2 separate regions of the Homo sapiens genome follow, and region 2 is linked to region 1. Evidence: fine-mapped expression QTL. A gene starts in region 1. The other region holds a variant in brackets. All regions are shown on one strand. Distances are between the middles of the regions. Region 1 holds the start of SETD2 (SET domain containing 2, histone lysine methyltransferase). Region 2 overlaps SETD2 (SET domain containing 2, histone lysine methyltransferase).

The links. PIP is the estimated chance that this variant, and not a neighbour inherited with it, causes the effect.
Region 2: its variant is the best candidate, but not a certain one, in a credible set for the expression of SETD2 in whole blood (GTEx, PIP 0.85).

Annotation. Positions count from the first base shown.
Region 1 is chr3:47,161,191-47,166,616 of GRCh38, forward strand. SETD2 (SET domain containing 2, histone lysine methyltransferase) reads right to left here and starts at 2,923. Exons shown (of 21, transcript NM_014159.7): 1 at 2,664-2,923. The coding sequence starts at 2,734. KIF9-AS1 (KIF9 antisense RNA 1) reads left to right here and starts at 3,180. Exons shown (of 7, transcript NR_033373.1): 1 at 3,180-3,407. RefSeq lists silencers at 2,216-2,525, 2,576-3,325, 3,376-3,425.
Region 2 is chr3:47,080,982-47,085,981 of GRCh38, forward strand. SETD2 (SET domain containing 2, histone lysine methyltransferase) reads right to left here. Exons shown (of 21, transcript NM_014159.7): 12 at 2,739-3,401. Among named protein-coding and RNA genes, the nearest start is that of SETD2, 81 kb to the right of the region's middle. RefSeq lists enhancers at 2,771-3,272, 3,157-3,296. The variant T/A (reference allele first, on the strand shown) is at 2,290.

The DNA of each region.
Region 1 (5,426 bases):
CAACTAGAAGCACTTACACGTGCCACATTCTGCGCCAAGTGCTCTTCATGCATTATCTCATTCAATCCTCCCAAAAAGCCCCAGTAAGTTGTTAACCATTATAATACCTATATAAAAGATGAGAAAACCCAAGTTCAGAGAGATGAAGTCATCGTCCAAGGTTAAAATAGTGTTCAGATTCAGGTCTGACTCTGAAATCCAGGTTTTTTAAACCCTATACTGCCTTTCTCTCTCCTCTCTCTAGCATTATAAACACTAACTAGCTTACTATCTCAAGAGTTTGCTGTCACTTCACTTCTCTAGCCTTCATTTTCTTCATATGCCAAACAGGTGATATTGCTCAGGATACCTACCATGATCCCCTCCAGTCTTTATAGTATTATGAAAAAAAGGAAAAACAAAACAACAACAACAAAAAACATGTTACAATTCTTTACTCCATACAGGTTAATACACAAGAAGAGGCCTGGCACAATGGCTCATGCCTGCAATCCCAGCACTTTGGGAGGCCAAGGCAGGAGGCTCACTTGAGGCCAGGGATTCAAAACCAGTAACGTAATTTATTTTTTTTTAATTAGCTGGGTGTGGTGACACATGCCTATAGTCCCAACCCAGGAGGCTGAGGCAGGAGGACTGCTTAAGCCCAGAGGTTCAAGGATGCAATGAGCCATGATGACACCACTGCACTCCAGCCTGGGTGACAGAGTGGGACCCTGCCTCTAAAAAAAAAAAAAAGGAAAAAATACACGAGAATTTAAAAATATATAATCACTGTTAGAAATCCAAAGCAGTGGATTTCTACTACATTAAAGCAATAAAAATAAAAACTCCAAAACATGTAAAACCATAAAACATTCTTGATTCCTTCCCCACTCAGGTCTACCAAAGATGCACTTCTGAGTCCATTTTCCCACATATTATGAAAAATTGTTTTTCCCCAAGAAGTGTAAGGATGTGATCCTTAAAGCTTCCGGACTTCACCAAACAACCTGGTAAAAGGAAGTGAAAGCAGGCACTTAGCCTATTCAGGGGTTAGCATGTTACTTTGTACAGAGCAAGTGCTATATAAGCATTTATTGAATCGTGATATAAAATTTTTTTTGAGGTTTTTCAAACTAAAAACCTATAACATGAGCTTTGTAATTGGACTGATGGTGCAGTAAATCAAAACAATCTTACCTAACTGACCCTGCCAGTAGCAAAACAAAAAGACCAATCTAATTAAGGTAATGTTAACCAATGGCCAAGAACCCATGAAAGGAAAAAGCCATGTTAACTTACTATTGCAAGTAAGAGTTGGGTTTTTAGAAAAGCAAAATAATGATTTATCTTGTTGTGCAGAAATGACCAACACCTCAACAGAATCCGTTTGTGTTGCAATCAAAACTATCAATTAAGATCCAGACATTTCTGGACCAATGTGAGAAGATGTGGCAAGGGATTCAAAAACGAGCCAGAGCAAACCTAAGGTAAAATGTGTCAAAACAGCAAAGCTCTTGGAATCATCCTGGTCATAAAAGTTTGACAGTTTCATGTGAAACCCCTATCAACCGATAAGTTTTAAATCAATAGTATATTCCTAGGTCTAACACCAGCAAACGGTGTTTAAGAACGGCTTTTCAAAACAATGGTCTCGTGAGGGTTCAGGGAAAGAAGTGACTCCAGGCTTTCTGAGATAGCAGATACAGCAGCAGATTCAGACCTCAAGAGAAATGTAAAGGTGTCCTAGACTGAAAAATTACTATTGGGCAAAACTGTGTGTCGGTTTTCCACAACATTGTCTTCTTTAGAGAATCCTCAAACGATTCTTGGTTTTTAACCAAGTCTTCACAAGAAATAGAAAGTCATCCGTTTAGGGTAAGAGATTCCTGTTACCAAGAAAATTGTGTCCGAAAGTGTGAAAATCTCACAACCTGCAAGAAAATGTATGTCCCTCAGGAGGCTTTCATTTTCAAGCGGAAAAACAAACCCGGTGTCACCTCAACAACGGGACCACACAAACCTCGCCATTACAAAACCCAAGTGCCAAAGGTGCACAATGTGAATCCGGAAGCACTGCAAGGCCAGGATCGAGTTCCCAGGAGGAAAAAATCAAACTCAGGAGTGCAGCGCGGGCCCCTCCACGGCCCGGGGGCCAGGCAACCCGCGCTAGGCCCTTCCGGTCCGAGGCGCCGCCGTCGCGGGGAGGTCGGGCGACGGGTCGAGCTTCCACCCGAGCCCGGGGATTCGCGGCCTACCCTCACCGGCGCCCTCTTGCCGGGCCCGGCACCGGCAGCTCCTCCGACTCTGCCCTTTGGCTAGCAGCGGGGCCCGGACGAGCCACGAGGAGCCCGAGAGGACCGCCGAGCCCCGGGATGGCCGGGTCGGTGCGGACACGGCGGTAACCGTAGGGACCGTGGCCGCCCCTCCCCCACCGGCCCGGCCCAACCGCCGCCGCGACACGAGCAGCGGCGCCAACGCCGGGCCCAACCGCGGGCCTGCTGCGGCCCCGGCCAAGCGGCTCGAAGTGGCGGCGCGGGCCTGCTCCCGACACCGACCGCGCGAGGCCACCGTGGGCCTGTTACTCCTCGCGCCGGCCCGCGCCGCCACCCGTCAGGACGCGCCGCCCTCGGCTGGGGATAAGGCGGCCGACAGCAGCGGGGGGCCGCGGAGCTGATACTTACTCAGGGGTCGGGTGCTCCGGGTCGTAGAAATCCCCCATCTTCGGAGGCGGCTGCGGCTGCAGCTGCTTCATCGGGAGCGGCTGGAGACGGCGACGCGAGCCCCCTCCCCGCAGCAGGGCGACGCGGGGGAGGGGAGGGGAGGAGGCCGCAGGTCCGACCGCGGCGGCGGCGGCGGCGGCGGCGGCGGCGGCAGGGGCGGCCCGCGTCGCTACCTCGCTCGTCGCTCCCTCCCTCCCTCGGACGCCCGCCAGCCGCTCTCTCCCTCTCACCCTCACACCGGGAGCGACGCACACCCCACCCGCCCCTCAGCTTCGCAGGCCCGGCCCCTTAAAGAGACACACACGGGCCACCGATCTGCCGCCAGTCGGCGTGCCTTGCAGCTGTTGGCTTGACCCCAGGCCGGGACGGGCAGAGCGGAACACTGCCCGGCGGGTCCAGGCCGACCGTGCCTGTGGCTCTCCGGAACAATAAACCCCCGGCCCCAGTGATGTGGGCCAGACCGGACCTGGAGAGGCGGCACCGCGACCCCTCCCGCAACCCGCCTGGCGGCCGGGGGCAGCGTGACCCGGCCCGCTACCGTGTCACAGCTGGCGACTGACAAACAGCAGGCGACGTCGGGAGAACTCCCCGAGACACCCGAGACATCAGCCTTCTCGCTCCGCGGCCCTGCAGGACCTGCCCGCCGGGAGCCCCGGAGTCCGCGGCAGCGCCGAGGGCCCCTCCCCCAGGCCTCTGGGCTCTGAGGTAACGCGGCCGCGGCTGCTCCCGGGCCCCTCGTCCCACTCGCCCCTCTCTTTTTTATTTTTCCTCGCCCTCTCTCTCCCTTGCCCGTTCATCTCGACCCTTTAGCAAGCATGGAAGCCCAGCGAGGCGGGGGATTGCTCGGAGGCCGAGCTCCCGGCAGCCTCCTCCGCCTTCCTTCCCGCTGTGCCCTCGGGGCTCCTACCTCCACCTCGGCGCGGCGCTCTGCCCCCACCCGAAGTCTCCAAGGCGGCAGCTCCCCTCTCCTGTGTGGTTCTTGGGGCCTTAGAGGCAATGTCATGAAAAAAAGGGTATTAATCACTTTCCTACAGAAATGATAAGATGAGACTAAGTAGAATAACTTGAAAGAGCTACGAGTTGTTATTTTTGGAAGGAGAGATAGGAACGCGTAAATCCAATAGCTAAACTTTCTAGACGCTGAAGAGTTTTTGGCGATAGATCATTTTGACATTGGGGGTTCATAGGGTTAGCGTTTTTTGTGTTGTTGTTGCTGTTGTTTTTCCACTAGAATTTTGAATCGGATTTTACCAGCAATTGGTAACGGAAAGGAAAGGATGTGTCTTCCAATTGAGAAACAGTGGTTAAAAACTGAAAGTGGGCCGGGCGCGGTGGTTCACGCCTGTAATCCCAGCACTTTAGGAGGCCGAGGCGGGCGGAGTAACTGAGGTCAAGAGTTCCAGACCACACTGGCCAACATGGCGAAACCCCATCTCTACTAAAAATACAAAATTTAGCCGGGCGTGGTGGCGCACGGCTGTAATTCCAGGTACGCGGGAGGCTGAAGCAGGAGAATCGCTTGAACCCAGGAGGCGGAGGTTGCAGTAAGCCCAGATTGTGCCACTGCACTCCAGCCTGGCGACAGAGCAAGACTCCATCTCAAAAAAATAAATAAATGAATGAAAATAAAAAATAAATTAGCTGGGCGTGGTGGTGCGCCTGTAATCCCAGCTACTCGGGAGGCTGAGGCAGGAGAATCGCTTGAACCCAGGAGGCGGAGGTTGTAGTGAGCCCAGATCGCACCATTGCACTCCAGCCTGGGCGATATAGCGAGACTCCGTCTCAAAAAAATAAAACAACAACAACAAAAAAAAACTGAAATATGATACGAAAGAATAAACATCCTTCAGTGGTTAACTTTTTAAAATAGCCTTTATATGTATGTAGGCTACAGTGTCTATTAGTGTTTTATAATCATTGTTTTTCACTTAGGGATTATTTTGGCTTTTGTTTTTTTTTTTCCTGGTACCTTTAGGGTTAGCATGGAGGTCCAGGGTCCATCTGACTCCCTAGGTTCGAATCTCCCAAGGCCATTTTTTTACACACCGTGATTATTACTAATTTCCCTGTGGTTTTTCTCATTATAAAATGAGAATATTGCTGCCGACAGGTCTTCTCATTATTGTGAGGATTAAATGAGCTATTTGTTAAAGGCTTAAACTTTCAGTAAACGTCAGCATTCTTCAGCCATGATAGTGCAGAGTTTAAGAGGTAGCTCTACCTGGCATTGTGTACCAGGCACTTTCTAGCCCTGTGACATTGGGATGCTTGCTTCTTATGCTTCCCGTGCCTCACCTGTAAATGGGGTATTAGCCACTGTGCAGAGAATGTTGTGAACATGCTTGCACAGTGCCTTTCATTGAGTAAGTGCCCAGTAAGTGTTATCTTTTGGGCTTTGAAAGAATAGATTGAGGCCCTGTGCCTTAGATGCCACATAGGCAATTGGGAGTCACTTGACCTTGGACAGGCAGGAAAGGACAATTTTAGGTGGAGGTGGTTGAAACAATGTGAGGTGGTAAGGACCTAAGCTGAGGTGAATGAGAAAAAAGCAGTCAGGTGCAGGTTTCCTATTTCCTTAATAAGAAAGTAAGCAATTCTCTTGCAGGAGGTACAGCTGGGCACTGGAATGCCTGGTCTCATGATAGCATTGGTTTGGTCAGAACCCAGTGCAATAAGCTTGTCAAGCCATGGGAATCAGTGAGAATTCTAAGCCCCAAACAGAAA
Region 2 (5,000 bases), 80 kb before region 1:
TAGGTTCTCGTTTTTCTTCAGCACGAAGTTGGAAATGGAGTTGAGAAAAGGAGACACATGGTCAGCTGGTGATGTTAACAAGCTCCTTGCTGCCCTGAGAAGCTAGATGGAAATGGTTCAAGTTACAAGGGGGATCATCATCAGATCTGGGAGGACAAAGAGTAATTCATGAAGCTTCATTCCCTTCCCTCCCACCCTCTTTCATTTACTGATGATTCCTATAGTCTGCCATCACAGCAAAACCAAGATTAAGGAATCTGAAGCAATCCCTTTCTGTTCTTCACTCCATCCAGTGTGTAGAAAAGCCAAGCGGAACACATGTCCACCAATGTTATGGTGGCCCCCGGTTGGCTGGGGAGACTTGAAATGGCCATAACCACATAACCACAATCTTAGACCAATGCTTTTTAGTACGATCTTGGAATTAAAGATCAGCAACTAACACAGTGTTTGACAATAGGTGCCTAATAAAGGTTGGTTGAATAAGACATTTTCTTTTCAGCCAATGTCTACTCGAACACATAGGTGGAAGTCAGACAGAAGTAGTTAACTCTTTCAATGCCGGGATCGTATGGATATACAGTAATCACATCATGTCAATGTGTTTCTCTAAAACATGTTCAAATTATGGATTCCTGATTTCAGACTTCTGGTTAAATGCTATCTATGTTTGTCTGGTTTTTTTAAGAACCACCATAATCAGAGTTTTGAAAACAGAGCCATAGTAAATGTTAATTAGAATGATGGATGAATTAAGAACCCCAGCACCAATGTATAACAAAACATCACAGTTCACAGTCAAGTAAAAACATTTCTCAGTAATACAATTCTAGATGGGTAATGATTCCAGAGCAAACTAAAGTTTGAAGAAGAGAGGAGAATTTTACTTAACGGCTCCCTTGACACTAAGAATCAGGAAAAATCCAAAGTATGAAGGATAAGAAGGATATATTTTAAGTACAAATAAAGTTTTAAACCTCAAATCAAGAGGATCATCAAGCTACATATAAAATTGCTTTGATGTTTCAGATAGGAGTGGGGAAGATAAGAAGAAGGGGAAGAAATAATTTTGTAGGACTCAAATGTGTGTCCAGAGTGTGAGTTTAAATTACCATGGTTACATCTAATTGGGTTAAGTATATCCTAGAGAGTAATTCATACCATCACAATTACAGAAACCCACTATCATACGAAGAAACAAGAATATTTACTTTTTCCAGATTTTAAGATAGCTTTACAATGATTACTTCTTAGCAGTTTTAAAAAATAACATCAACCAGAGACTTCTCCGGCAAAAGTAAACTACTGGTCTACAACCCTACTTATTCTTCCTTCCATAAAAGTACAGCTATAAAGGCCTTTTCTGTGTCCATTTGTGTACTTGTCTTCATCTCCACCTTCTTAACTGAGCTTCTTTACAGGCTCCACTAGCAGCCTCCAAACACAAGAGGGACTCCTTTTAGGGACTCCTGTGCTGTCACAAAGCAGGCCTTAAATAAAAATCCATCAAGTGACTATCCCAGCACTTCTTTCAATTAACTGCAATTCTGATTCCTGCAGTTCACATACTGACTTCATAAGTAAATTTACTACGAACTCTTCCTTTCATATTTAGAAAAAGGCCTGATTTCCTAAGACATAATAAGGCTGACTTTATACTGAATTGTAAGTGATGAAAGTAACATGAGTAAGAGCTCAAATGGGTAAACAAAAGCTGAAACCACAACATACTTAAAGAAGGGTCTCAACACAGCAAATGAGGAAGCATAGTACACAACCACCAACTACTCATTTTGCTCAGTGTTTAAGGCCAGTTTCATTGGGTCAAATCACAGGATCTAATGGAGTGAGCTTTGTCATCATAATTAGGGGCAGGGAGGATTCAGGTGTTCATCTTGCTGCAAAGAGTCAGGATTGCTGGTTTATTTGGTTGCTTCATCTCCGGCAGAAGAAAGGAGGAACAGAAAAATAGAAGCTAGTTAAGTAACCTGTTCCCACAGGGTCCTCAAGACGTGGATCCCAAGTCCAGATCACTTACAAATGAAATGTACCACACCTCTCCTAGGTTTATCCTGTTATTCATTCTTGTGTTTATCCAAGACTCAGTCTGGGTTTTCTGCAAAGCAAACCCTGCACATCTTGCTACATTCTTCAACAAGAGATTATGTATGTAATAGGCATAAGAGTTCCAGATCTATTTTTCCTCTTTTGTCCAAAGAAATAGGCATTTAAAAGCAGGCCCATTTCAGAAACAATAATAGAAGTGAATACGAACTAGTTCCATAAAGT[T/A]GTTTTTCTAAAATAAAAATTTACATTCAATCATTTTTAGTAAGCTGCTAAATTATCTTAGTTTTCCAATTATTTTTAATTTTCCATTAATACAACTGATTTCCAATAAATTTAAACACTAATTTTTTCTCATTACAAATAGAATCCTAAGTTTGCTCCTCAAAGGATTTTTGTTTTTAATGTGAAGAGCACTTAAATGACTGAACTCACTATTGTGATGTACTTTTCTAAGTGACAGAAAAGAAGACATTTGTATATTAGTTTGGCTAATATGACTCTTGCCACGGTTTAGAGGATGTTTGAGACACTTATAAATAAAACAGTAAGAGAGACAGTATTCCATTTTTCAGAAATATGCATGGCTAAAAAAAGTAGTTAATTTTGCTTAGGTTTGTAGAACTCTAAACCTGAGTAATTCAAGTTGAAATGAACAAAAGATGCTTCCTTACCTTTAGGTCTTTCCAACTGTCCAGGAGTTTGGTGGCCAAATCACTTATATCCACTGTTTTATCTGGCTGTTCTTGGCTCCTTTCACTCTCCACATCAGACACACCCTCCTCTTCATCTTGGGATGGTGTTTCTTCATTAATAGGTTCTTCTAGTTTTGTGCCGTTGCTCTCTTTGGGCTCTATTTCAGCGTCAGCTTCTGGTTCAGATGTAGGTAGCTTACTAGCTTCTATGTTGGTTTCACTATCAACTTTGCATTCAGGCAGCTGTTGTGGGAGTAGCTGTTGTGACTGCAATTCTTCCTCTTCCTCTACAGGGACATTTTCTAATTGATCAAGATCCTCTTTGCCATCCTTGCCTTCTAGCTCACTGGTTGCATCAGAGATTGCACTGTCCATGCTATTTTCACTTATAATTTTCAGTCTGCGAAACATTAGTTTCTTGGGAGTGTCTGTGTCAGCTTCTGTGCTCAGCTTGGTGGAAGGATCAGGTGTGTTGAGTGGTGTATGAGCACGCGATGTATTCTCACTAGAATACCCATCTCCTTCACTCAACGGAGGGACAGCAGTCTTAGTCTGAGACCAGCGTTGAATAATTGGAAGTACTTTGCTTTCCTCCAACATATTTTTAGTAGGAATGGGCAAGTGTTCCAAAGTCTTTATAATCTGATTAAACATAAAAAAAAATTACATCACTTTGTACAGTTGACTTTTTTTTTTTTTTTTGAGACAGAGTCTCACTCTGTCACCCAGGCTGGAATGCAATGGCATGATCTTGGCTCACTGCAACCTCTGCCTCCTGGGTTCAAGCAATTCTCCTGTCTCAGCCTCCCAAGTAGCTGGGAGTACAGGCGCTAGCTGCCACGCCTGGCTAATCTTTTGTATTTTTAGTAGAGACAGGGTTTCACCATGTTGGCCAGGCTGGTCTCAAACTCCTGACCTCAAGTGATCCACCCACCTCGGCCTCCCAAAATGCTGGGATTACCAGCATGAGCCACCACACCTGGCTACAGTTGATTTTGTTTTTTTTTTGAGATGGAGTTTCGCTCTTGTTGCCCAGGCTGGAGTGCAATGATGTGATCTTGGTCACTGCAATCTCTGGCTCCCTGGTTTAAGCGATTCTCCTGCCTCAGCCTCCCGAGGAGCTGGGATTACAGGGATGCACCACCATGCACAGCTTTTTTTTTTTTTTTTAGTAGAGATGGGGTTTCTCCATGTTGGTCAGGCTGGTCTTGAACTCCTGACCTTAGGTGATCCACCTGCCTCAGCCTCCCAAACTGCTGGGATTACAGGCATTGAGCCACAGCGCCTGGCCTACAGTTGACTTTTTCAATTTCTGGATGGGACTCAGATTATTTCTGCAAGAGTAGTGCAGTTTTGCTACTGCTTTATTAAGAACTACATCTCTGTAAACACAAGCATATTTAAAAATCATAATATTGTTTTCCTTAAGAAAGAAAAACTTTTAATAAGACTGATCAGCAAGAATCACAACATCAAATAGGACTGATTAATATTCTCTACCAGTAGTTCCTAAACCTGGGTAGCTTTTTAAACATATACACTACTGGACCAATCCTGGGTATCTTTTCTTAAAAAGTTTACCAAGTGTCTGTGATATACACTTAGCAGCTATGTAACAACATATTTAAATGATGTCTGTCATACACACAAAAATGCAGACATCTCTTCAGCTTTTGATAAACAGCTGTCTAGCAAAGAGAGATCCCCTCCTCATTCTTAGACAACCTCCCCCATTTTGAAATCCAAGAATTTTTTCTGAAGTATTCCTCAATGTAGTTCCACAGAAACCCCAAGGCTTCCTCAATTTCCTCAAGCCAAATCTCCTGGGAGAAGGACAGAGGCAAGAACAAGTACTTATCTGCCCATTCCTTTTTGTTTGTTTTTAAAAGTGTTTTATTAAATAAAAGACTCTGGGATTATATTACAAATTAGAAAGTTAGAAAATTTTATTAATTTCATAGAAAGGTAAAGACATCGTAACTCCACTAATAATGCTGCCAATGAACCTTTACTTAGATCTTTTAAAACACTTATTTAAAAGATTCCTCAAAATGTTCATACTCTTGTTATGCAGAATTCAGATCTTTACCAATTCTTTAGACCCCACAGTTCAAATTTTATATGACTTCCCATCTTTTTAAAACTCTGGTTTTAACAACAAACTGGATCTTTCACTTAACTATGTTGTTGTTATTATATCTTGCTCTTGTAGTTCCCTGCTATGTAGTACCAACTTTAAAA